Homo sapiens: one gene and its partners. The protein of the gene in region 4 purifies or fractionates together with the protein of the main gene of each other region. This does not show direct contact. Each region holds a gene or a part of one and is shown on either strand. Other genes may lie near its edges.

Region 1 (3,500 bases), on a different chromosome or scaffold from region 4:
GAAGATTTATACCAGAAGTCAATTTGCTTTGTATGCCATGAAATCAGCACCTATTTGCCCAAGAGTTGACACATTTTCTGTTGCCCAGGCTGGAGTGCAGTGGCACAATCTTGGCTTACTGCAACCTCTGCCTCCCGGGTTCAAGCGATTCTCCTCCCTCAGCCACCCCAGTAGCTGGGACTACAGGCACATGCCACCATGCCTGGCTAATTGTATTTTAGTAGAGACGAGGTTTCCTCACCATGTTGCCTGGGCTGGTCTCGAACTCCTGAGCTCAGGCAATCCGCCCACCTCAGCCTCCCAAAGTGCTAGGATTACAGGCATGAGCCACTGCGCCCACCCTTGGTTAGCAAATTTTTAACCAAATTTATTGAGGTACAATTTTTTTTTAATTGTATCCATGTTAAAGCACACAGTTCAATAACAAATGTATATACCTGTGTAACCACCAAACCAATCAAGACATGGAATATTTCCATCACCTACAGCATTCCTTTGTGCCTCCTTTCAATCTTCCCCACTATTGCCAGCCAACCACTGATCTGCTTTCTGCCACCATAGTTTGCACGTTTTAGAATTTCATATAAATGGAATCATATAAAATATATTATTTTGGCCTAGCACAGTGGCTCATGCCTGTAATCCTAGCACTTTGGGAGGTTGAGGCAGAAGGATTGCTTGGAGCCAGGAGTTTGAGACCAGCCTGTGCAACAAAGTAAGATTCAATCTGTATAAAAAAAAAAAAAAGTAGTCTTTTGTGCCTGCATATCTTATTTTTATTAATATATATTTATATTGACAGAGACAGAGTCTCGCTCTATTGCCTAGACTGGAGTGCAGTGGCATGATCATAGCTCACTGTAGCCTTTAACTCCTGGCCTCAAGCAATCCTCCTGCCTTGGTCTCCCAAACTGCCGAGACTGCAGGCATGAGTCACAGTATCTGGCCTTTTTCTATATTAAAATTCATTTGTCAAAAATCCTGCTTCCAGCTGGGCACGGGAGCTCATACCTATAATCCCAGCACTTTGGGAGGCTGAAGCGAGAAGATCACCTGAGGTCAGGAGCTTGAGACCAGCCTGGTCAACATGGTGAAACCCTGTCTCTGCTAAAAATAGAAAAACTGGCCGGCGCAGTGGCTCACGCCTGTAATCCCAGCAGTTCGGGACGCTGAGGCAGGAGGATCACAAGGTGAGCTGATTGAGACCATCCCGGCCAACATGGTAAAACCCCATCTCTACTAAAAATTCAAAAAATTAGCCGGATGTGGTGGCACATGCCTGTAGTCCCAGCTACTTGGGAGGCTGAGGCAGGAGAATCTCTTAAACCCGGGAGGCAGAGATTGCAGTGAGCTGAGATTGCGCCACTGCACTCCAGCCTGGGCAACAGAGCGAGAATCCATCTACAAAAATAAATAAATAAATAAATAATTAGCTGGCCATGGTAGTGGACACCTGTAATCCCAGCTACTCAGGAGGCTGAGGCACGAGAATCACTTGAACCAGGGAGGCAGAGGTTGCAGTGAGCCGAGATCATGCCACTGCACTCCAGCCAGCCTGGGCAACAGAGCGCCATCTCAGAAAAAAAAAAATATTCTGCTTCCATCAACTTTCTAGTTCCTCATTTTTTAAAATTCTCTTTTTTGAAGAGACAGGGTCTCGCTTTGTCACTCAGGCTGGAGTGCAGTCGCATGATCATAGCTCATTATAACCTCCACCTCCTGGGCTCAACTGATCATCCTGCCTCAGTCTCCTTGAATATCCGGGACTACACATGTGTGCCATGTCACATGGCTATTTTTTTCTTTTTTTTAATTTTTATTTTTGTAGAGACAGGGTCTTGCAATGTTGCCCAGGTTGGTCTCGAACTCCTGGCCTCAAGTGATCCTCCTGCCTCAGCCTCCCAAAGTGCTGGGATTACAGGTATGAGCCATTGCACCTGACCCTGACCCCTCATTCTTTTTTTGAGATGCAGTAGAGACAGCATTTCACCATGTTGTTCAGGCTGGTCTTGAACTCCTGACCTCATGATCTGCCCACCTCGGCCTCCCAAAGTGTTGGGATTACAGGCGTGAGCCACCATGCCCAGCCTCAGTGGTAGACTTTTTTTTTTTTTTTGAGATGGAGTTTCACTCTTGTTGCCCAGGCTGGAGTGCATTGGTGCGACCTCAGCTCACAACCTCTGCCTCCTGGGTTCAAGCAATTCTCCTGACTCAGCCTCCCAAGTAGCTGGGATTACAGGCATGGACCACCACTCCTAGCTAATTTTGCATTTTTAATAGAGACAGGGTTTCTCCATGTTAGTCAGGCTGGTCTCAAACTTTCAACCTCAGGTGATCCGCTCGCCTCAGCCTCCTAAAGTGCTGGGATTACATGCATGTACCACCATGCCCAGCCTGATTTTATTTTATTTATTTTATTTTTTTGAGATGGAGTCTTGCTCTGTCATGCAGGCTGGAGTGCAATGGCGTGATCTCGGCTCACTGCAACCTCCGCCTCCTGGGTTCAAGCTATTCTCCTGCCTCAGCCTCCCAAGTAGCTGGGACTACAGGCATGCATCACCATGCCCAGCTACTTTTTGTATTTTTAGTACAGACAGGGTTTCACCATGATAGCCAGACTGGTCTCAAACTCCTGATCTCAAGTGATCCACCCCCCTCAGCCTCCCAGAGTGCTGCAATTACAGGCATGAGCCACCAAGCAGCCATGATTTTATTTTTATTATTATTATTTTTTGACACAGAGTCTTGCTCTGTCGCCAGGCTGGAGTGCAGTGGTGCAATCTCGGCTCACTGCAACCTCTGCCTCCCAGGTTTAAGCGATTCTCCTGCCTCAGCCTCCCGAGCAGCTTGGGACTACAGGCGCGCACCACCACACCCAGCTAATTTTTGTATTTTTAGCAGAGACGGGGTTTCACCACCTTGGCCAGGTTGGTCTCGATCTCCTGACCTGGTGATCCACCCGCCTCGGCCTCCCAAAGTGCTGGAATTACAGGTGTGAGCCACCATGCCCGGCCTTATTATTATTATTATTTTTTTTTTTGAGACAGGGTGTCTGTGTGCTGCCCAGGCTGCAGTGCAGTGGCATGATCATGGCTCACTGCAGATTGACCTCCTGGGCTCAAGAGAACCTCCTACCTCAGCCTCCCGAACAGCTGGGACTACAGAAGCATACCACCACATCCAGCTATTTTTTTTTTTTTTTTTGAGACAGAATCTTGCTGTCACCAGGGTGGAGTGCAATGGTGCAATTTCCGCTCACTACAACCTCTGCCGCCTGGATTCAAGCGATTCTCCTGCCTCAGCCTTCTGAGTAGCTGGGACTATAGGCACACGCCACCATGCCCAGCTAATTTTTATATTTTTAATAGACACGCGGTTTCACCATGTTGGCCAGGATGGTCTCGATCTCTTCATCTTGTGATGCACCTGCTTCAGCCTCCCAAAGTGCTGGAATTACAGACTATGGAATTACAGGTACCTGCCACCATGCCTGGCTAATT
Region 2 (3,500 bases), about 180 Mb from region 4:
CAGTGAGCCAAGATCACGCCATCGCACTCCAGCCTGAGCAACAAGGGCAAAACTCCGTCTCAAAAAAAAAGTAGAATAGAGCTTTCTTCCCACTCCCAAGGGCCCAAGAAAGTGTCATAGCACCCCTAGAACGCAGGATGAGCTGCAGGTTGCAAGAGGAGGACGAAATCAGTAATAATCATCACAACACTGAGGCCCCATTTGTTGGGGACCTCGAGGCTAGACGTTTAACATGGTTTTTTTTGTTGTCATTGTTGTTGTCTTTTGTGAGATGCAGTCTCGCTCTGTTGCCCAGGCTGGAGTGCAGTGGTGCGATCTCGGCTCACTACAACCTCTGCCTCCCGGGTTCACATCATTCTCCTGCCTCAGCCTCCTGAATAGCTGGGACTAAAGGGGCCCGCCACCACGCCCGGCTAATTTTTTGTATTTTTAGTAGAGACGGGGTTTCACCGTGTTAGCCAGGATGGTTTCGATCTCCTGACCTCATGATCCGCCTGCCGTGGCCTCCCAAAGTGCTGGGATTACAGGCATGAGCCACCTCACCCGGCCTTTTTTTTTCTTTTTTTTTTTTTTTTTGAGACGGCTCTGTCACCCAGGCTGGAGTGCAGTGGCACAATCTTGGCTCACTGCAAGCTCCACCTCCTGGGTTCACACCGTTCTCCTGCCTCAGCCTCCTGAGTAGCTGAGACTACAGGTGCCAGCCACCACACCTGGCTAATTTTTTGTATTTTTTTAGTAGAGACAGGGTTTCACCATGTTAGCCAGGATGGTCTCAATCTCCTGACCTCATGATCTGCCCGCCTTGGCCTCCCAAAGTGCTGGGATTACAGGCTTGAGCCACCACGCCCGGCCAGCATATGGTATTTCTAATTGTCACCAAAAGCCGACTATGGTGTGTACTGCTACCAGTGCTTCACAAATAACACTGAGGCTCAAAAAGGTTAAATGATTTTCTAAAAGCCATACAGCTAGCTAGCAGTACAGCTACTCTTTCCACTGCACCTTTCTGCTGCCCCCCAAAACTTGGATGGCTGCTCCAAAGCCAGTACAATGCCTAGCGAGTTGTGTAGGGGTGGCCACTAGGACCTCTACCTCATTATCATTTTTTCTCTTTCCATACATGAAGTGCAACAGAAACAAAGTCATCAACTCTGATTAGCCAGCCCCTAACCATGAGTCCTAAACCCTATAGAAGAAAAGACCGAATGTTGCCACAATCCTTCTGTCCAACCACCTGAAGCATATAACCAGGGTGTCAAAGAAGAGTCAAGTTCAAAGGTTCTAACTCTCTCTGCAGGTAGGACACTGTGGGCACAAGAACTTCAGCATCTACTAACAGATCTCTAAGCAGCACAATACTCTATGCTTACCCCCTAAATTAAAAGTGCAATCCATTTTTCTTGAGCCCACTGGGCAGCTGTGCCTACTACAATCTAAAAAACCATTCAGGGTGAAACTGTTAGTGTGCTGTAAAAAGAAATTAAACAATAATTTTTAAAAATAAATTTTAAAAAAGCCATTCAGGGATCCTCATCGTCCTTGCCAAGGCTACAGAGCTTACAGGAGGCTGAGGCAGGCCCAGCCTCATTCTTCACCTCTCCCACTCTTCCCCACATATCCCACTCCCCTCTGACTGCCCCACTCAGTCCTGGGAGCGCCACAGGAACCAAGCTGCCTTATTCTGGAATTAGAATCCCTGGCCACCTTGGAAATTTACCTCAAAGTTTTTCTGCCACTCTCTTTCCCGTTTGGCTTTTTCTTGAGCTTCAATCTCTTCTTCCCTTTGTCGTTTCCTAGGAGGAAAACCAGATCATAGTATTTATATGATACTTACAGACTGAATTAACCATACAAGGTGGCATCTCCCCACAGAAGCAAGCATATATAGTAAATCAATTCCCTAGAAGTCTACAAAGATGGCTGTCTGGAAAGGGCTCATAGCATTTTCATGAATGTCTCATTCTAAAACACGCAGATCAGACTTGGGCATGGCTGTGGGGAAAGACATAAATATCCTTGTTACACAGATAAAGTAACTAAAGCCCAGCCAAGAGCAATCTGAGGTTTTGGGCTCTTTCAGTGACAAAGCTATGTCGAGAACACAGGCCACCTTATTTCAGCAGAATGACCATTATAAAGCCAAAGTTCTTAAGATCTCTGGACAAAACCCTATCCGAAAACAAAGATATTTCACACAACCTCAACTAGCAAATTTTAGTTACTGGTACCTACCAAGCAACAATATAAAATACATACAGAAACAAAACTCGGCCGGATGTAGCGGCTCATGCCTGTAACGCCAGCACTTTGGGAGGCTGGGGCAGGTGGATCATGTGAGGTCAGGAGTTCGAGACCAGCCTGACCAACATGGTGAAACCCCGTCTCTACTAAAAATGCAAAAATTAGCCAGGCAGGAGAATCACCTGAACCTGGGGAGGTGGAGGTTGCAGTGAGCCAAGATCATGCCATTGCACTCCAGCCTGGGCAACAAAAGCGAAATTCTAACATTTCTGATGTTCAAGAGAAATCATATTTTAGAACATTAAACATTTTGTTACTGATGACACTACAGTACTATACACTCACCAAAGCTGTAGCCACTAGCCCCACAAAAGGTTCTGGCTTCAGTAACAATGGCCTTAATAACTGCTTATTTCACTCCAGGACATCAGGAAGAACACACACAAGGCTCTTGATTATAAATAAACTCCCTGGCAGCATGCAGTGGCTCATGCCTGTAATCCTAACACTTTGGGAGGGCAAGGCAGGCAGATCACGAGGTCAGGAGATCGAGACCATCCTGGCCAACATGGTGAAACCCTGTCTCTACTAAAATACAAAAAATTAGCCGGGCATGGTGGTGTACACCTGTAGTCCCAGCTACTCAGGAGGCTGAGGCAGGGGAACTGCTAGAACCTGGGAGGTGGAGGTTGCAGTGAGCCAAGATCGCACCACTGCATTCCAGCCTGGCTACAGAGCAAGACTGTGTCTCAAAAAAATAAATAAAAAATACACTCCCTAAGGACAGACCTATTCAATAATTCTCAAAAGTCAAAGAAAAAAACTACTTACCCTGGTGATTCAAAAGCTTGACTGTTTTTAGGTAACTATTTTTATAGTCTCTTAAATGGTATACTATATAATTCCCTCATTAGGAAAATCACCAAAGACCAATGTTAGTTAATCTAGGTATTTAAATATGGTTTAAATGAATATACTGATATGTACCTTTCATGCATCTCTTTGGCTTCTCTCTCTTTCCTTTTAATTTCCAGCTCTGCAAAGAGTTTCATTGTCTGTTTATATACAGCTTGTTTGAACTACAGGAAAATCAAGAACAAAAGAAAATCAGAGTAAATATTTTTACCAGCAACTTGAACCATGTACTTTCACCTGGAGTCCAAGATAAAGCAGATTAAAACCTGGCACAGGCTGTGCACCGTGGCTCACATCTGTAATTCCAACACTTTGGAAGGCCAAAGGCAGGAGAATCGTTTGAG
Region 3 (3,500 bases), about 34 Mb from region 4:
CATGAGACGTCAGGTTAGAAAACTTACAATATTTCCACATCAGAAAATACACTGAAATAAAACTGCATTTCTATTTTAATTCAAGTCGTTCATTAAAACTAAACTTTAGGCTGGGCGCGGTGGCTCACGTCTACAATCCCAGTACTTTGGGAGGCCGAGGCAGGCAGATCACGAGGTCAAGAGATTGAGGCTATGCTAGCCAACATAGTGAAACCCCGTCTCTACTAAAAATACAAAAATTAGCTGGGTGCGGTGGCACGCGCCTGTAGCCCCAGCTACTTGGGAGGCTGGGGCAGGAGAATCACTTGAACCTGGGAGGTGGAGTTTGCAGTGAGCTGAGATTCCGCCACTGCACTCCAGCCTGGAGACAGAGAGAGACTCTGTCTCAAAAACAACAACAACCACCACCACCACAACAACAACAAACAAAAAACGAAAACCCTGAACTTTAACTTTGCCAAGGCTTTATACTATATTTGAATGCCATTAATCAGTCTACAAGCCAACTCGGAGAAGAACAAAAAAGTTGATTAGATCTAGAAAAAGAATTTTATTTTAAAGTATAATTACTCCAGGAAATTACAGTTTAATAGCATATCAACTACACCATGGAAGCTTGCATGTTTAAACTGATTAAACAGCAAACCTGAAATTATGAACTAGGTGCAGTCATTTAATTATGATAATCCAACATACTCATTAAGCTCTATGCCAGTTCAGTTTTAGAGGTATTAATGCATGTGAACAAATGAGATTTTGTTTAGTTAAATGTCTTGGAGTCAGAAAAAAGCAGGGGGAGAATCAGTATATGTGACTATGAAGCCAATACAATTCTGCAGATAAAACAGAAATGAAGCTCATCTAATAACTGAGAAACACTTCAGAGACGTCTGTTCATATACAGAATTAGAAAACACGGCTCTAGCCCATATTTTGTACTGCAAATGCTATCATAAAACAATCACTTTTATATTGATTACATATATTTAAAATATACAAACCCCAAACTGTAACCAACATAAAGCTCTTTGTAAAGTTTTTAAAAGAGAATGAAGAATACTATCAAACCTTTATTACAGCTGTTTTCACTTTCTTGTTTTTCTACCATGGGCTCTAAATTAGGTTCTCTGGGTTCAATTTTCTCCTCTAATTTTTCCCTTTCCTTCTCCAGCTCACATTCCTTTTCTTGTTCTTTCATCTTTTGTAGTTCTTTTTCCTTTTCTTTCTGCCGTTCTAGTTCTTTTTCTTTTTCTTGCTTTCTTTCTTTCTCCATTTCTCTTTGTTTTTCCTGCTCCTTCTCCAGCTCTTTCTCCTTTTCCTGCTGTCTCTCTCTGTCTTTTTCCCTCTCCTTCTCTCGCTCCTGTTCTTGTTCTTTTTCAAGTTCTTTCTCACGCTCCCGTTCTTTTTCTCGCTCCCTTTCCCTAATTTCCTCTGGAGATGGTTGTTTTTCCAGGATGCCAAGCTTCTCATCCAATCGTTTCAGTTTCTCCGCACAAGCTGCCTTCCTTTGTTCTTCCATTCTTCGCTCTTCCTCTTCACGCCGTTTACGAGCACGTTCTACTGCTGCAGAAATTTCTGATTGTTGTCTTCGTCTTTGCTTCCATATTTCATCTTCATCAGCTACTTGCTGCTTGGAGGGAAAGGGGCCTGGTCTTCCAGGTACTGCCTGTCGATCTGGAGGTGGATGCTGAAACATTAAGGTATCAGATGAGTTATGACAACTCTATTTCTGACTAACACTGGGTATCAGGCATGGAGAAGGAAAAACCCCACAAAAATATCAGAAATTTCTCTGATGAACATACACATTAAAATGAAAACACATAAGATGGGAAATATATTACATCTAGATAATTCACCAAACTAAGACCAGAATAATTAATCCAGCGGTCCAATGTTTACTGAGTATGTACCTATTATTGTGCCAGACGTTGTTGCTCATTCAGTATTTGCTGAATAAAACTAGAAGCACAACAGTGAATCTCAAAATCTAAATTTAGAGACAAAGGAAATTTAGCATGGATACTTTAGAAGCAGCTGCCAGAGTTGGAATGTCTAAGGGAGAGAAATGAAGGTATTAAATATCCAAAATGATGGCATGTGAGCCCTGAGAAAATTAAGGTACAGCTACAGGTAAAAAGCACAGAGCCAAAGAAGCAAAGTGAAAAAGACAGAGTCAGTGCTGTAATGATACCCCAAAGGAGAAGAAATTCCTACAAATTAGTCTGGGTGAAGAAAAGTTCTATCTTTAGACTGAAAGATCCAGAAAAGCGTATCTAGAACCCGGAGTGGAGAATCGGAGGATCATCTGAAACATCCAAGTTTCAATGACTAAATTTTCATTAATGTGTTATAAAACAATGACAGGTTTTAAAATCACTGCTTGCAACTATGCAAAAACAATAAAAGTAATTAAAAAAATGTTTTTAACATATTGATTTTAAAAGCTACTAGGGTGAAGAAATCTTAAGAGCCATATGTAACCCAGCTGGAATGCTTATAAAAAGATTAAACAATGACACAACGAAAACACTTGACTATCTTTTTAAATGAATGCAGACTACCATTTACTAATAGTGCCATCATATGCAAATTACTTCATCTCTCTTGTGCTGAGTTTCTTCATCCACAGCTCAGAGATAAGCTGAAAAACCAAATATATTAGTGCCTAATTTACACAACTCACTTCATAAAAGTAAAATTTACATAAAATGTGCTGTGCTGCACATATTTTAAGTGTATAGTTTGATGAGTTTGGACAAATGATACACCTGTGTAACCACTGCTCCAACGCAGACACAACATTTCCATCACTCCTCTGCCTCCCCCTGTGGCCCCAAGCACCCCAACCCTAACCTTGTATAGTTCTGTTTGTCCTAGAATTTTATATACATGTATAAAATTATATTCTCTTTTGTGCTAGCTTCTTTTGCTAAGTATAATGGCATTGAGGTTATTTTATGTATAAGTAGTTTGCTCCATTTTACTGCTGGATAGTATTCCATTGTGGGCACGTTGTTTCATGTATGATAGACACGTGGGTTGCTTCCAGTTTTTAAACTATGAATAAAACAGCTATGAACATTCATGCGTAAGTCTTTGTGTAAATGTATGTTTTCCTGGCTGTTGGATAAACAGCTACAAGTGAAAATCCTGTGTCATATGGTAAATAGATATTTCATTTACAAGAAACTGCCAAACTGTTTTCCAAAGTGGTTATAAGGTTTTCCAATGTATAAGGGTGCCAGCTGCTCTATACATCCTTGCCAACACATGGTGTCATCAGTCTTTAATTCTGGCAGTGCAGTAAAATCTCAGTGGTTTTAACTTGTATTTCCCTAATAACTAAAGACACTGAATATCTTTTCATGTGCATACTGGCCATTCTTACATTTTCTTTTGAGAAACAAATGTTCAAGTCTTTTTGTTTAACTACGTATTATTGAGTTGTAAGATATTAAAAAAAAAATAAAAATACGGCCCAGGCTAGACACGGTGGC
Region 4 (4,255 bases):
AGGCTAGGCACTGCTGTCCATTCAGTCCCAAATGATCGATACAATATATAGTTGGTACTAACATTTATTGAGCACTTATGTGTCAGACACACAGTTTAGTATTCTATATACAATATTTAATAAAGCTATAATTTTTAGACTATATATAACGTAATTATATGTTTATAAATTTTATGTCTGTTATAATCTACTTAACAAAGCTATACAGTAAGTATTATCATTCCCATTTTGCAGCCAGGGATACTGAGGCTTGGACGAGGTTATGTAACTTGCCAAGCTGGTGGAGCTCACCTAGTGAAGCAGCCAATATAGAAACTTTCTTTCTGGCCGGGTGCGGTGGCTCACACCTGTAATCCCAGCACTTTGGGAGGCTGAGGCGGGTGGATCACCTGAGGTCAGGAGTTCAAGACAAGCCTGGCCAACATGGTAAAACCCTGTATCTACTAAAAATACAAAAATTAGCCAGGCATGGTGGTGGGTGCCTGTAATCCCAGCTACTTGGGAGGCTGAGGGAGGAGAATCACTTGAACCCAGGAGGCGGAGGCTGCAGTGAGCTGAGATCGTGACATTGCACTCCAGCCTGGGCAACAAGAGTGAAACTTCGTCTAAAAAAAGAAACTATCTTTCTGACAGTCTGGGTTTTTATCCATGTTGACTTATCAGGCTGTGACGTCCAGATGATAGTACTTAAAGTCTTCAAGTTAACTTTACTTTGAATCTTCAGACCAGCCCTGCCCAGGCTGAGAGCTCCAGTCTGGGTAAGGGGAGAGCTGGAGAGAGGCCTCCACTATCCCTCCACCACCCAGTGGCCTGGAATGGGCTCAGGAGACCACCAGGGATCACTGTCTACTCCTCCTCCTCCTTCAACGTTATTCAGGGAGCCAGGAGGGATGGGGAAGTTCACCACACACTCCATGAATACATAGGAAAACTCCCCCTAACACACACCCACTAAATTGGGGCCTGTCTGTCCACAGCTGTACATTCATCCACAGCTGTATTTTTATCTTCAAACTCATTCTGCTGACTCAAGCTGCATTTTCTGAGCACTTTCAGAACAACAGAGTCCTGGCTCCACGACAGGCCTGGTGGGAGGAGATAAGGGAGGAATGAGGGAATGGGACTGATCCAACAGAATGGCCTGCGACCTCAAATTGCGTCCCACTTATCCCCTACAATATGCTGCTCTATGGGTTTCCTCAGGCTTCCCGTCTAGCCTGGGCCTCCTGGGCCCTCCCACTCCCACCCCAATAGGCCAGCCTGTTTCCCAGGCCTCGGGCAGGTGAGTCTACACCAAGGCGGTCTCTGCTCTGAAAGGAGATCTGCTAAGTGCCTCAGGAAAGGTAGTCCGAAGCCCCTAGGACCTCAACCCCACCCCTGAGCAAAGGTTCCAGGACCCCAGCAAGGGTCACTGCGGGCCCTGGTCAACTGGCAATGCCCGGCTGCAGACTCCAGGGCAGCAAGACAGCAGCTGGGCTATTCTTAGTCCCTGCTCCACCGGGACCGGGTCTGTGTAACAGCTGAAGGGCGAGTCCTCACCAGGTACCCACCATGCCAAACCCCTCCCTACCCCCAACTCTGGCCCCTTGGAAAAAGAGGAAGCATAGGGAACACGCCCTGGAGTGGGGAAAAGCTGAGCAGGTCAAGAGTGTCTGTCAGGAAGATGGAGGCTGATTCAGAGGTCAAGGGCAAGAGCAACTCACAGGACTGCAGTGCCTGGGGGGAGCGGAAGACTACAGGAAGGCCTGACCCGCACTAGGGAGAAAGCATGCAGGTCCCTGGGGCTTTTCTAGCAAGCCTGCCTAGGCCCAGAGCTCTGAGAAGCTGCACGGGATGCCTAGGTACCACCACATCACACCTGTTTGCCGTTTGCAGAACTCTGTCCTTCCCCACCTGAGACCTGGGAGGCGAGGAGAAAACAGCGGCCTTTCTCTCCCCACAGAGGGGGAAACTGAGGCTGAAAAGGGGACACAGTAACACACACACACACACACACACACACACACACACACACACGGTCCAGTCCCAACTCTGTACCCAGAGCTCGCCCCAGTTCTAAGTCCAAGAGGGCTCAGTCCCCTTTCCCTGTCTTAATAACTCACTCTTCCTCAAGAAAGCCGGCCTGGGCCTGAGCACCCCGCGGCGCCGCGGCCGTCGGCTCCCGTCCCGGCTCCCCCAAGTCCCGGACTGTGCGCGCCGCAGTGACTCATCCTGCCCCTTTCCGGTGAAGCCCAGACAAGAGAAGAAAATAAACGCAACTTTCCAAAGAAAAGTCTGACACGGGAGGCTGCAACAGGAGCCAGCGGCCGGTCCGCCAGCCGTCGGCCCGGCCCGGTCCGGCCCGGCCCGGGGCTCCGGGGAGGGGCCGCTCCCCGCCCACACCGCCGCCCCGCCTGGGACAGCGCGGGCACCTCCTGCCTGCCCGCCCTCCGCGGAAGAAAGCACAGCTCAGCGGGGACCCGTGCAGGCGCCGGGCACTCGGCACCCGCCCCGGCAGAGCGTGTGGGACGCGCCCTCCTCTGGGATTCGCGCGGGGCTCGGCGCGCAGCGCCCCGGACGGCCACGGCGCAGCCCCATCCCGCGGGGCGCAAAACACGCGACAGCGCGGAGCTCGGCCGTGCACTGCTGCTCCCTTTCCCGCGCCGGGACCCTCACCCCTGGGAGAGGAGGGGGCGCGCTCCTACCTGGCCGAGGCGCGCGGCTGTCACCCGGAGCCAGCGCGTGCAGGCTGGTTCCGCCCCCCCTTCCTTGCCCCCCACGCGCGCCAGCCGGCGGCTTTTAAATCTCCAGGTTACTCCGCGGGGGGAGAGAGCATGCGCGCTGGGACTGCCAGGAGGGGGGCGGGGCGAGGCGGGACGGAGGTGGGGGGTGCTGCGAGGGGGGATAGAGGGGTGGGGCTGGTACCCAGGGGAAGAAAGCGGGAGGTCTCGAAGCTGGCTTTGTAGCCGCGCCGCGACGGGCAGCCCCCGCGTGGCTCCCAGACTGCCCTATCATTACCTAGGGCAGGGCACCGCCCCCTCTGTCGCTCGCCACCAAACATTTAGGTGAAAGCTACCCGGCTTCGCGGGGCACCTCCCCTCCCCTACTCGGAGCCAGTCTGCTGCGACCATTACCCAGGCGTGCCATTCTGGCCACCCGATCTCCAGGCAGAGCTGCTCCCTACCTGTCCAGGACCATCCCTTCAAAGGAGATGTCACATTCTCTCCGAATTACCCTTCTGCTCTTTGCTATTCTCCGACGCAGACAGAGCTAACTCAATCCCTCTTTCTGCGCTGAAAACCAAATTCCAATTTTTTTTCTTCTTAAGAGTGTGTACGGGGAAGAATGGATGATAAATTGCCAATGAAATGTTCTCTTTGTCAGCTGTTGAGCAAGGTCCGAACAGATACCTGTTCCAGAATGTCTTTGATGGAGTCCCAGGCTGGCCCTGGGGTTGGGGGTTGGGGGGCAGTTTTGTCTTTTTTTCCTCCATGGAGTTTTATTGGGTGGAGAGAAATCCAATTTAGTTGGATTGTTGACTTGAATACTACAAAGTCCCAGGAAGATGCCTTCGAAGGGGAAGACCTGGTTGGCCTTAGCCAACCAGGCACTGGGGCACTGGGTTCCAATGCTGGCCCTGTGTCAACAGCCGTATAACGTGGGCCAAGTCCCTTCCATGTTCTGGGCCTCTGTAAGAGGGGGTGAGCCAAATGATTTCTAAGGGCACCTTCCAGCTGAGAGGTAGAAGGAGGCAGAGAAGAAAGGGAGATAGAGAAGGGAGAGGAAATAGTGGCGCCCTGGTGGTAGTGGGGAACAGAGAGCAGGTGCCAGAGAGAGTTGAGAAGAGAAAAATCAAGAATCTACCTTCTGAGTCACTAAACAAGTTTAACTTGAAAACTGTCTCAGCGTTGCCTCCCTGGAGCAGACACACCTCTACCTGGGGACCCTCCTGGAGATGGCTTTCCAAAGTCTTTGGCATACCCTCTCGTGGCAAGCAGAGAGACTAGGGTGGAGTCCAGGGTCTCTGAGCTGGTGTCCCCTCTCCTCCAGGAAAGAGGTCAGGAGTCAGGGGAAATTTCAGGTCAGCTGGAAAATTACAGAGCCAGGAGAGAGTGGACGGTGGTATTTTGCAGGCTTGGGAAAGAACACTGGGAACATGAGAGAGTTGTCGCACCACAGACAAGTAAGAGCCCCCCTCTTCCTCCTGCCTCCCACCACTTCTTTCCAGGGGCCCTTGTGCTTTATGCCTTATGACAGGGGGATGAGGAAGGAGAGC
Region 5 (3,500 bases), on a different chromosome or scaffold from region 4:
CAGTAATCTAAGATGAAGAATCTTAGGTTAGAATAACATTCAAAACCAGAATATAAACAGACTATCAGATATCTCATATTCCTGACTCTCTTGGTGAACAACTTACATAATTCTATCCTTTTCCAAGGTGACTACTATTGCTACAAAATTAAAGGGCGGAACACTGTGACATTTAATAATTGAATTTTGGCTGAGCATGGTGACTCACGCCTATAATCCCAGCACTTTGGGAGGCCGAAGCGGGTGGATCATTTGAGATCAGGAGTTCGAGACCAGCCTGACCAACACGGTGAAACTCCATCTCCACTAAAAATGCAAAAATTAGCCAGGTGTGGTTGTGTGTGCCTGTAATCCCAGCTGCTCAGGAGGAGACTGAGGCAGGAGAATCGCTTGAATCCGGGAGGCGGAGGTTGCAGTGAGCCGAGATCGTGCCACTGCACTCCAGCCTGGGCAACAGAGCAAGACTCCATCTCAAAGAAAAAAAAAAAAAATTAAAAAGTAATATTTGATGTTCCATCTTCTAGATTCCATCAATACTACTAAATAACACGTTTCACACTTGACAATTAAAACTGTAAATCATATAGTTCATTAATTATAATCATAAACTAGAAGGTAGCCAGAGAAGGATTATTATCCCCACTTTGCAGATTTAGATACTGAGCTCAGAGGTTTTAGGTCATGTACCTAAGGTCACATATATAGCAAAGGGTGGAATCGGTACTCAAAATTTAGGTCTTCTGATAATTTTTTCCTATGCCATATTATTTTAAAATAGCCATTATAGAAGCAGCAGTACACTGTAGATAAGAACAATGCACCAGCCTAGGAGTCTGAAAACCTAGTTTAAAAAGCCTTTTCAGAAAGTCAGAAAATTCAGCCAGGAGCAGTGGCTCACGCCTGTAATCCCAGCACTTTGGGAGACCGAGGTGGGAGGATCACTTGAGGTCAGGAGTTCGAGACCAGCCTGGCCAACATAGTGATACCCTGTCTCTGCTAAAAATACAAAAATTAGCTGGGCATGGCGGCAGATGCCTGTAATCCCAGCTACTCGGGAGGCTGAGGCAGGAGAATCACTTGAACCTGAGAGGCAGACTCCAATCTCAGCGAGCTGAGATTGCACCACTGCACTCCAGCCTGGGTGACAGAGTGAGGCTCTATCTCGGGGGGGGAAAAAGTCAGAGAATTCTATGAAGAAAACACAGCCTGCCACTTACTCTCACTTATTAAGCACCTGCCTGTGTTAGAATTTGTACCAAGCAGCAACAGTCACATCCTTTCCTCAAGTCCAAATTATCACTGCCTCCATTTATTGCTTACCCTATGGGAATGAGGAAAGAAGAGATAGATCAACCTTAGGTAATTACAGAGCATATAAATCTATGGAGGTGCTAGGTAATGATTTTTAGAAGTATACCCCATGATCCAGCTGGCAACTTAAAATCTGGAAAAAAAAAAAAAAGAGGCCAGGTGCGGTGGCTCATGCCTGTAATCCCAGCACTTTGGGAGGCTGAGGCGGGCAGATCACTTGAGCTCAGGAGTTTGAGACCAGCCTGGGCAACATGATGAAACCCCATCTCAATGAAAAATACATTAAAAAAAAAATTAGCGGACATAATGGCATGTGCCTATAGACCCAGCTACTCAGGAGGCTGAGGTGGAAGGATGGCTTGAACCCAGGAGGCAGAGGTTGCAGTGGGCTGAGATCACGCCACTGCACTCCAGCATGGGTGACAGGTCCAGACCCTGTCTCCAAAAAAAAAAAAAAACCTGAAAAACGTTTTATTTATAGACTTCTAGAATACAATTTTCAGACAATATAATGCAAACGCATGTTTCACTTACCGCTGGGGTAGGAGTCTATCATTAGCCAGGTAGCCTGGCTTATGAATCTCTTTATTGTAATCTCCATACTTGGCTTGGACAGCATAGGAAGCCAAAAGAACTGCAGTTTCTGGCGGGCAATATATCTCATCATTTAAGATGGCTTCTTTAACTTGCAAGAAGAAGAGTCTCTGGGTTATTTCTTGAATTAATTCCTCAGAAACATCTTCAGGAAAGAATTTAGCTCTAAACTTGAACTGTAAAGGATTCTCTTTTTTAACATCCTGCTGTGTTACCTGGAAAAATAATTTCAAGTATAATCAACAAAAATCTTAAGTTTACAATAATTAGACCTAGTCACATCAAATTCTTTTTGGAAGAAAATGAAGTGAAATAGATTCTAAATCTATGAAGATTTTAGTGTGTAATAGTCTAAATCTGTAAACAAATATATGTGGTAAAAGATTCTATGCTCTTGAATGTGACCTATAACTCAGATTCTAATAACCAAATTGAAAACTTTTTTTCATATTCTTGAGAAGCTTATCCTACAGGTATTTACATCAAAATTGAAGTACTTAGTATGCCATTTGTAATATCTGCTTTAATATTTGTTATAGGCTAAGTTTTCAAATAGGAAAAGTAAGCATTTCTTTTTTTTTTTTTTGAGATGATAAGCTGATGGTGCCTGATTGAATTTAAAAAAACATGGTACCTCATAATGATTAACAGATAACTACAAAAGGAAGCTTGCAATCAGTCAGACTTAGCTTTTCCAGCACAAATTCATAACTTCAACTTAACATAATTATTAGTTTAATGTTATCGTACATATTTTACCTTTTTATTTAGTTTAAGCCATGTAGAATAACCTTTGCTGTCTACATACTGCAGCCCAAAAAACCAGACCTCACGCAAACCAACTGTTTTCACCACCTAAAACACAACAACAACAAAAAAACACAATTTCAGTCCAACATACACATTGTGTCTAGATGATACTACACTTCAAAAGGAGAACAAAACTATGTAAGTATACGTATATTCCTTTGCCATAGAAAAGGCTTTCCCTAAATTTAAGATATTAAAGGAACATTTTTGAAAACTCAAATTCAAGTTTTCTATACTCAATTTTTCTTTTTTTTTTTTTGAAAAGAAGTTTTTTTTTTTGTTTTTTTTTTTTTTGTTCTTGTCACCCAGGCTGGGGTGCAATGGCACAATCTTGGCTCACCGCAACTTCCGTCTCCATTCAAGTGATTCTCCTGCCTCAGCCTCCAAAGTAGCTGTGATTACAGGTATGCACTACCACGCCTAGCTAATTTTTTGTATTTTTAGTAGAGATGGGGTTTCACCATGTTGGCCAGGTTGGTCTCAAACTCCTGACCTCAGGTGATCTGCCTGCCTCGGCCTTCCAAAGTCTTGGGATTATAGGCGTAAGCCACTGCACCTGGCCTCTAATCCTCAATTTTGTAGTGTCACTTCAATCCTCTTACTTGATCCACTTTTTCATACCTCCTTTTCCTTATCTATCATGACCTCAACAATAACAAGAGTCTTGAAAATATATATATATATATATATAGTTTTCATAATCATACGTTCCAATTTCTATTTACCCCCACAAGTACCCTATTGGTATATTTAGGGCAAATGGTATCATTTTGGTGATAAGAAAA
Region 6 (3,658 bases), about 180 Mb from region 4:
AATGGTGGCTTGCCCAGAGAGGCAGCAGCAGAGGTAGAAAGACCGAAGATCAGGAGGCATGATCGTGGGTGTGTAAGGGGATAGGGGAAAGACGGGGGAGTCAAGGATGGCTGTGATTTCTGTTACGAGGAACCATATGAATAACAGTGGCATCAGTGCACATAAGGAGCCCAGCAAAAGGAGCCGGCATCGGGGACAGTTAGAATTTCAGGAGCTGCTAAGAGGTTCAGGTGAACCATCCAGATGGAAGGTTTGCAGGTGACTTCATCTGTGGACCTAGAACCCAAGAGAGAGTTTGTGCCTGGACACAGCCAGTGCTGTACATATTGAAAATCTTGGCCGGGTACGGTGGCTCATGCCTGTAATCCTGGCATTTTGGGAAGTCGAGGCAGGTGGATCACCTGAGGTCAGGAGTTCGAAACCAGCCTGACCAACATGGAGAAACCCCGTCTCTACTAAAAATACAAAATTAGCCAGGCGTGGTAGCACATGCCTGTAATCCCAGATACTTGGGAGGCTGAGGCAGGAGAATCGCTTGAACTCAGGAGGTGGAGGTTGTGGTGAGCCGAGATCGCGCCATTGCACTCCAGCCTGGGCAACAAGAGTGAAACTCCATCTAAAATATATATATATAATATATATAGTCTTGATTGATGCTCATCAGCAGCCTCTTGTCAGCAAGTATTAAAAAATATTTTCTCCCCCTAGGTCTCGCTCTCGAAGCAGACATTCCCGTAAGAGCAGAAGCCGAAGTGGCAGCAGCAAAAGCAGTCATTCTAAGAGTAGATCTCGGTCCAGGTATGTCTTCCATGTTATAAGTAGAGGTGGTCAGCAGGGAATGCCTGTACCCTGTCTCACTTTTTTTTCTTTTTTTTTTCAAAGAGACACTCTGTCACCCAAGCTGGAGTCCAGTGGTACAGTCATGGCTCACTGCAGCCTCACCTCACTGGGCTCAAGCAAGCTTCCACCTCAGCCTCCCAAGTAGCTGGGACTACAGGCACATACTACCACACCCAGCTAATTTTTTAATTTTTTTTAGAGACAGGGTCTCACTATGTTGCCCAGGCTAATCTTAAACTCATGACCTCAAATAGTCCTCCCAGACTACTGCGATTACAGACATGAGCCACTGTGCCCAGCCTCACTTGGATTTCAATCATGTGACCAGTCTTCCTGCTTTTCCAGCTTCTTTTTCTTTTTTTTTTTTTTTTTCCCCCCTCAAGACAGAGTCTCGCTCTGTCGCCCAATCTGGAGTGCAGTGGCGCGATCTCGGCTCACTGCAACCTCTGCCTCACGGGTTCAAGCGATTCTCCTGCCTCAGCCTCCTGAGTAGCTCGGTTTACAGGCGTGTGCCAGCATGCCTGGCTAATTTTTGGTATTTTTAGTAGAGACGGGGCTTCACCATGTTGGCCAGGCTGGCTCTTGAACTCCTGACCTCGCGATCCGCCTGCCTTGGCCTCTCAAAGTGCTGGGATTATGGGCATGAGCCGCCGCACCTGGCCAGTTTTTCCAGCTTCTGATTGGCATTGTGAGGGTTCAGAAAACAATCCTCAGCCAGTGCCAGCCATGCTTTATATTGGGGGGTGTAACTCCACATGTATGCCCTTTGGTCTTTTTATCTCCTGATTAGCATGAAGTCACATGTGACACAAACAGTATCCCATGTCTCCTCAGGTCGGGCTCCCGCTCCCGGAGCAAGAGCCGGAGCCGGAGCCAGAGTCGGAGCCGGAGCAAGAAAGAGAAAAGCAGGAGCCCCAGCAAGGAAAAGAGCCGCAGCCGCAGCCATAGCGCTGGCAAGAGCCGCAGCAAGAGCAAAGACCAAGCTGAAGAGAAGATCCAAAACAATGACAATGTCGGGAAACCCAAGAGCCGGAGTCCTAGCAGGCATAAAAGTAAGAGCAAAAGTCGGAGCAGGAGTCAGGAGAGGAGAGTGGAGGAGGAGAAGCGAGGGAGTGTGAGCAGGGGCAGGAGCCAGGAGAAGAGCCTCCGCCAGAGTCGGAGCCGGAGCAGGAGCAAAGGGGGCAGCAGGAGCCGGAGCAGGAGCCGCAGCAAGAGCAAGGACAAGAGGAAGGGCAGGAAGAGAAGCAGAGAGGAGAGCCGCAGTCGCAGTCGCAGCCGCAGCAAGAGTGAGAGGAGCAGAAAGCGAGGCAGCAAGCGAGACAGCAAGGCGGGCAGCAGCAAGAAGAAGAAGAAGGAAGACACTGACCGCTCCCAGTCCAGATCTCCATCCCGCTCCGTGTCAAAGGAGCGGGAACATGCCAAGTCTGAATCCAGCCAGAGGGAAGGTCGAGGAGAGAGTGAGAATGCTGGCACCAATCAGGAGACCCGGTCCAGGTCGAGATCCAATTCCAAATCGAAACCAAACCTTCCATCAGAATCACGCTCCAGATCAAAGTCAGCTTCAAAAACCCGATCTCGGTCCAAGTCTAGATCCAGGTCTGCTTCCAGATCGCCCTCCCGATCTAGATCTAGGTCCCACTCAAGGTCCTAACTGGCTATGGCCACAGCTGGAACTACCCGAGAAGTCTTTTGTACATGTTTGGTAGCCGTAGCACAAGTGATTGGAGTAGAACATGTCACTGCTGTACATTTTTAACTCCCCTAATGGTGTGTCTATAATTGTTAAATCTAAGTGCTTCCTCTCAGTAAAGCCTCCTGGCACCAGGCCTTCCTGCTCGACTGAAAAAAATTTTCTCTTTGAAAATCCCCTTTTACTCATGGCCCACAGTAGAATATCCAAAACGCCTTGGCTTTCAGGCCTGGCCTTTCCTACAGGGAGCTCAGTAACCTGGACGGCTCTAAGGCTGGAATGACCACATAGGTAGGTATGGTGAGTTCAACCATTTTTGCTCTTGAATTGATGCCCTTCGATGTATGCCATTTAGTGAAAGTGCTAAGTCTTAAGTTTCCTACCACTTTGGTTTCATATTTTTGGACTTAACAAAGTTGTGAATAGCACAGTCGAGGAAAATTGATACCTGCAGTAACCCATAGGAAATAAACTGTAGAGTTCCATATTCTGGTATTGTGATTATATTGTTTTATATTAAAAAAGAAAAGAAAAGAATTTTTTTTAATTTTATTTTTCCCCGTCTTGCAAAGTATAGTGACCCCTGTTTCCATTAAATTTGAATAAAGACTATTTTTGCTTGACAAAATTTCATGGTGTTTGAATTGAAGTTGTACTTTCTGATATATCTTGATATGTCTTTTCTTAGCATAAAAAGTTCATGTGTAGGCCGGGCACGGTGGCTCACGCCCGTAATCCCAACAGTTTGTGAGGCTTAGGCAGACGGATCACAATGTCAGGAGTTCGAGACCAGCCTGACCAACATGGTGAAACCCCGTCTCTACTGAAAATACAAAAATTAGCCAGGCATGGTGGTACACGCCAGTAATCCCAGCTACTCAGGAGAATGAGGCAGGAGAATCGCTTGAACCCCGAGGGGTGGAGGTTACAGTGAGCTGAGATCACGCCACTGTACTCCAGCCTGGGCGACAGAGCGAGACTCCGTCTCAAAAAAAAAAAAAAAAAAAGTTCATGTGTAATGACTGTTTTGTTCCTTGGGATCACCCATCTTAGGGAACCAACACGTTCCTAAAGGATTTTTCTCACCAACAGAATAAAGGCAGGTTTCCGAGGAATTTATCATCCTTT
Region 7 (3,500 bases), on a different chromosome or scaffold from region 4:
TGGCCACCACTGTGTCCCCAGCATCACTCCATGGGGCCCTGGCAGGGACTCATCCCTCTGGTGGACAGGCAGGGGCTGCCAGGACCTGGGGTGGCCACTCCGCTTCTTGTCATTTGTGTGCTGCTGCTGCTGCCGGTGGTCAATCTCCAGCAAGTGCTGCTTCATGCAGTTGGTGATCTCCGGGCCCAGGTGCCAGATGAACACGCAGCTGCGGAGGTCAAAGAGAGACACACAAGGCAGAGGAAGAGTAAGCATGGGAGCCGCTGCCGTGGCTGACCCTGAAGCCACCCACACCACAGCCTGGACCCCATTCTCCAGATGCTCCTGGAAAACACACCCCTATCCGCTTAGTGCAGGGGTGCTGGACTTGCCACATCCACACCCTGGGCCCAGGTCTGGGGCATCCCAGCAAACCAGGGCCTGTTCTGGAGGCCTCAAGACCTGAGGAAGGGGGCTGTGGGGAAGAACTGGGGTAAATCAAAGGGAGTGACAAAAGGGACTTCCTTGAGTACCACCCATGTGCTAAAGAATGTATGTATATCATCTCATTCATTTCTCACCATACAATTTTCTTTTTTTTTTTTTTTTGAGAGAGTCTTGCTCTGTCACCCAGGCTAGGGTGCAGTGACGCGATCTCAGCTCACTGCAACTTCTACCTCCCAGGTTCAGGTCATTCTCATGCCTCAGCCTCCCAAGTAGCTGGGACTACAGGCGCCTGCCACCACGCACAGCTAATTTTTGTATTTTTAGTAGAGACACAGTTTCTCCATGTTGACCAGGCTGGTCTTGAACTCCTGACCTCAGATGATCCATCCACCTAGGCCTCCCAAAGTGCTGGGATCACAGGCGTGAGCCACTGCGCCCGGCCTCATCACACCATTTTTAAGGTAAATGTAAACGGTGGTGTCTTTTACAGGGGAGCAAACTGAGGCTCAGGGGAAATAACCTGCTCAAGGTGACAAGAAAATAAATGGCAGAGCTGGGATATGTTTTTTTAGTGTTTTGTTTTTTTTTTGAGACGGGGTCTTGCTCTGTCACCAAGGCTGGAATGCACTGGCATGATCTGTGCTCCCTGCAACCTCTACCTACCAGGTTCAAGCCATCTTCCCCCTCCTGAGTAGCTGGGACTAGAGGTGTACATGACCACACCCGGCTAATTTTTTGTAGAGATAGGGTTTTGCTATGTTGCCCAGGCTGGTCTCGAACTCCTGAGCTCAAGTGATCCACCCGCCTCAGCGTCCCAAAGTGCTGGGGTTACAGGCGTGAGCCATCATGCCCAGCTTAGAGCTGGTATTTGAACTCAGGGCTGGGTGTGACACCAAGACTCCCACAATCCAAACTGGGCAGTTTAGAAATGCTCTCTACACAGGCAGGCTGAGTGCAGTGCTCATGGTATCTGAGCCACAACTCTCCCAAAGGTCCATGTCCCACCTGTCTCCAGATACTGTGATCAAGTGATGACAGTCATAGGTGAACTTCATGCTGGTAATAATTTCTGCAAACAAAGCAGAGAGGCTGCACTTGCCTTCGGAGTCAGAGGGTGTGGGCGGGTGGGGAGGCATCCCAAGCAGAGAGGCACACCCACCTGAATGGCCAAACATCTTGGCAATGCACTCGCCCGAGTAAAAGTCAATCACTGAGATGCTTTTGTCAGAGCAGCTGGTGGCCAGGAAGGTGCCTGAGGGGTCCACATGGACCTGCCAGGAAAGGGACCCACATGTCACTCCAGCTGCCTGCTTCTTCCTTATGATGAGGCCTGGGCCCCTCCCTCCCCCGTGCTGCATGCACAGCACATGGGACTCTGGCAGGGCAGGAGCTCCCGCTCCCATTCGACACGTGAAGAAATTAACAACCACCGCAGCAGTAACAACAGTAGCCAGGCCCTGTGCTAAGCACTGAACATGTGCAAACTGAACTCCTCCAGAGAACAAGTCTATGAGACAAGCTGTCTGTGTGCATTTCAAGAGATGATGCTTGCCCAAGGTCACACAGTCAGCCTGAGGCAGAACCTGAACCCATAACTGTCCTAGACCAGAGGCTCTGAGAAGGTCCCCCCTTGTCCTGAGTGACCCGTGGCTGGTGTGGGCAAACCAGGAGGGGAGTTCATGCCTCTGATTCTTCCCACCATACCCTGCTGCCACTCAAAATGGAACCCACTTAGACGCCCCACTTGGGGAAGGGCTCTGTAAATAAAGGAAACACAGCTGGGGTCACCCTCCCCACCCTCTCGCAAGCATCCTTGTTTAACCAGGCCTGAGAAGGTGCTGGGCAGCGCGGTGCACTGAGGAAGGACCAAGGGCACAGGTCTCAGGTGTGGGCCGTCACAATAGGTGGCCCATCAGGGCAGCAGACAGACAGGGGTCTCCAACTCCTCACCTTCAGCAAGGACCCTTCGTCACCCTGGGAGCCCTTGTAGCACTTCTTCTGCTTCCCGTTCACAGTGTTGTAGACTCTGGGGAAGTAGGGGCATGTTGCGGCCAACAGGGCCCCGCCTACCCCACCACCTCATTCTCTGGCTCTTGCTGTCCTCCCCTCCCCTGGAAGCCCCCTGCTACCTCTTGTCCCCATCTGATGCCTAGACTGAAACTGAAACCCCATCTCAAGCTGAGGTTGTCCTGGGGTATCCACTGAGTTAATGTTCATCTCCCCCACACACTGCAAGCTCAGTGCTTGGCACCGCATGAGAAAGAACTGGGAAGGGGTGCAGAGCCTCTTTGCACTGCTTTGCCCTCTGCACACTCACTCTCTGCCTCCCCCTGGCTCGCTCCTCCACATCCTCCCCAGGCTAAGGTGTCTCTTCCTCCAGGAAGTCCTGCTTGATCCGCAGGTGGGGTCAGGTGTCTCCACAGGGCCCCTGGGCTCCCCCATCTCTGACCACTCTGTCACTGTCTGTGGCTGTGAGGTGGCCGTGTCCATTCTACTGGACTGTGAGCTCCATGAAGGAGGGCCTGGGGCTATCCTGGCCACTGCCATGATCCCAGCACCATCCAGCCCAGTTAGGTGCTCAGGGAATACGGGTGAATGAGGGAGTTTATGTGCCACATCAGCACCTTAGTCATCCCACACCGGCTCTAGGGAGAGCCAGAAGAAAGCCCTCTGCTGACCTGGAGGCCAGGCTTGGGAGAGCCCAGCTTCTAAGAAATACCTGCTGGTGGCCGGGCACGGTGGCTCACGCCTGTAATCCCAGCACTTTGGGAGGCTGAGGTGGGCAATATCACCTGAGGTCAGGAGTTCGAGACCAGCCTGGCCAACATGGCGAAACCTCGTCTCTACTAAAAATACAAAAAATTAGCTAGGCATGGTGGCAGGCGCCTGTAATTCCAGCTACTTGGGAGGCTGAGGCAGGAGAATCACTTGAACCCAGGAGGTGGAGGTTGCAGTGAGCTAAAATGGTGCCACTGCACTCTAGCATGGGCAACAGAGCAAGACTCTGCCTCAAAAACAAAAACAAAAAAAAACCAAGAAGGAACACCTGCTGGGTCCCTCAATTCCTTCCCAGC

Evidence for each region.
Region 1: the proteins of SLC45A3 (region 4) and DRG1 purify together in Homo sapiens (affinity purification with mass spectrometry; one large-scale study listed by BioGRID and IntAct). This does not show direct contact.
Region 2: the proteins of SLC45A3 (region 4) and DNAJC8 purify together in Homo sapiens (affinity purification with mass spectrometry; one large-scale study listed by BioGRID and IntAct). This does not show direct contact.
Region 3: the proteins of SLC45A3 (region 4) and PRRC2C purify together in Homo sapiens (affinity purification with mass spectrometry; one large-scale study listed by BioGRID and IntAct). This does not show direct contact.
Region 5: the proteins of SLC45A3 (region 4) and RDX purify together in Homo sapiens (affinity purification with mass spectrometry; one large-scale study listed by BioGRID and IntAct). This does not show direct contact.
Region 6: the proteins of SLC45A3 (region 4) and SRSF4 purify together in Homo sapiens (affinity purification with mass spectrometry; one large-scale study listed by BioGRID and IntAct). This does not show direct contact.
Region 7: the proteins of SLC45A3 (region 4) and WDR62 purify together in Homo sapiens (affinity purification with mass spectrometry; one large-scale study listed by BioGRID and IntAct). This does not show direct contact.

Annotation. Positions count from the first base shown.
Region 1 is NC_000022.11:31,416,604-31,420,103, reverse strand, and holds part of DRG1 (developmentally-regulated GTP-binding protein 1), read right to left. Parts: intron 1-3,500. UniProt on the Homo sapiens protein: Catalyzes the conversion of GTP to GDP through hydrolysis of the gamma-phosphate bond in GTP. Appears to have an intrinsic GTPase activity that is stimulated by ZC3H15/DFRP1 binding likely by increasing the affinity for the potassium ions.
Region 2 is NC_000001.11:28,202,030-28,205,529, forward strand, and holds part of DNAJC8 (dnaJ homolog subfamily C member 8), read right to left. Parts: intron 3,321-3,500; coding exon 3,229-3,320; intron 1,794-3,228; coding exon 1,718-1,793; intron 1-1,717. UniProt on the Homo sapiens protein: Suppresses polyglutamine (polyQ) aggregation of ATXN3 in neuronal cells.
Region 3 is NC_000001.11:171,530,530-171,534,029, reverse strand, and holds part of PRRC2C (protein PRRC2C), read right to left. Parts: intron 1,688-3,500; coding exon 1,069-1,687; intron 1-1,068. UniProt on the Homo sapiens protein: Required for efficient formation of stress granules.
Region 4 is NC_000001.11:205,677,710-205,681,964, forward strand, and holds the start of SLC45A3 (solute carrier family 45 member 3), read right to left. Parts: upstream 2,801-4,255; 5' UTR 2,685-2,800; exon of another isoform or gene 2,661-2,684; intron 1-2,660. UniProt on the Homo sapiens protein: Proton-associated sucrose transporter. May be able to transport also glucose and fructose.
Region 5 is NC_000011.10:110,262,115-110,265,614, forward strand, and holds part of RDX (radixin), read right to left. Parts: intron 2,761-3,500; coding exon 2,665-2,760; intron 2,121-2,664; coding exon 1,846-2,120; intron 1-1,845. UniProt on the Homo sapiens protein: Probably plays a crucial role in the binding of the barbed end of actin filaments to the plasma membrane.
Region 6 is NC_000001.11:29,147,243-29,150,900, reverse strand, and holds the end of SRSF4 (serine/arginine-rich splicing factor 4), read left to right. Parts: intron 1-708; coding exon 709-798; intron 799-1,674; coding exon 1,675-2,491; 3' UTR 2,492-3,158; downstream 3,159-3,658. UniProt on the Homo sapiens protein: Plays a role in alternative splice site selection during pre-mRNA splicing. Represses the splicing of MAPT/Tau exon 10.
Region 7 is NC_000019.10:36,089,397-36,092,896, reverse strand, and holds part of WDR62 (WD repeat-containing protein 62), read right to left. Parts: intron 2,453-3,500; coding exon 2,377-2,452; intron 1,698-2,376; coding exon 1,586-1,697; intron 1,496-1,585; coding exon 1,432-1,495; intron 209-1,431; coding exon 86-208; intron 1-85. UniProt on the Homo sapiens protein: Required for cerebral cortical development. Plays a role in neuronal proliferation and migration.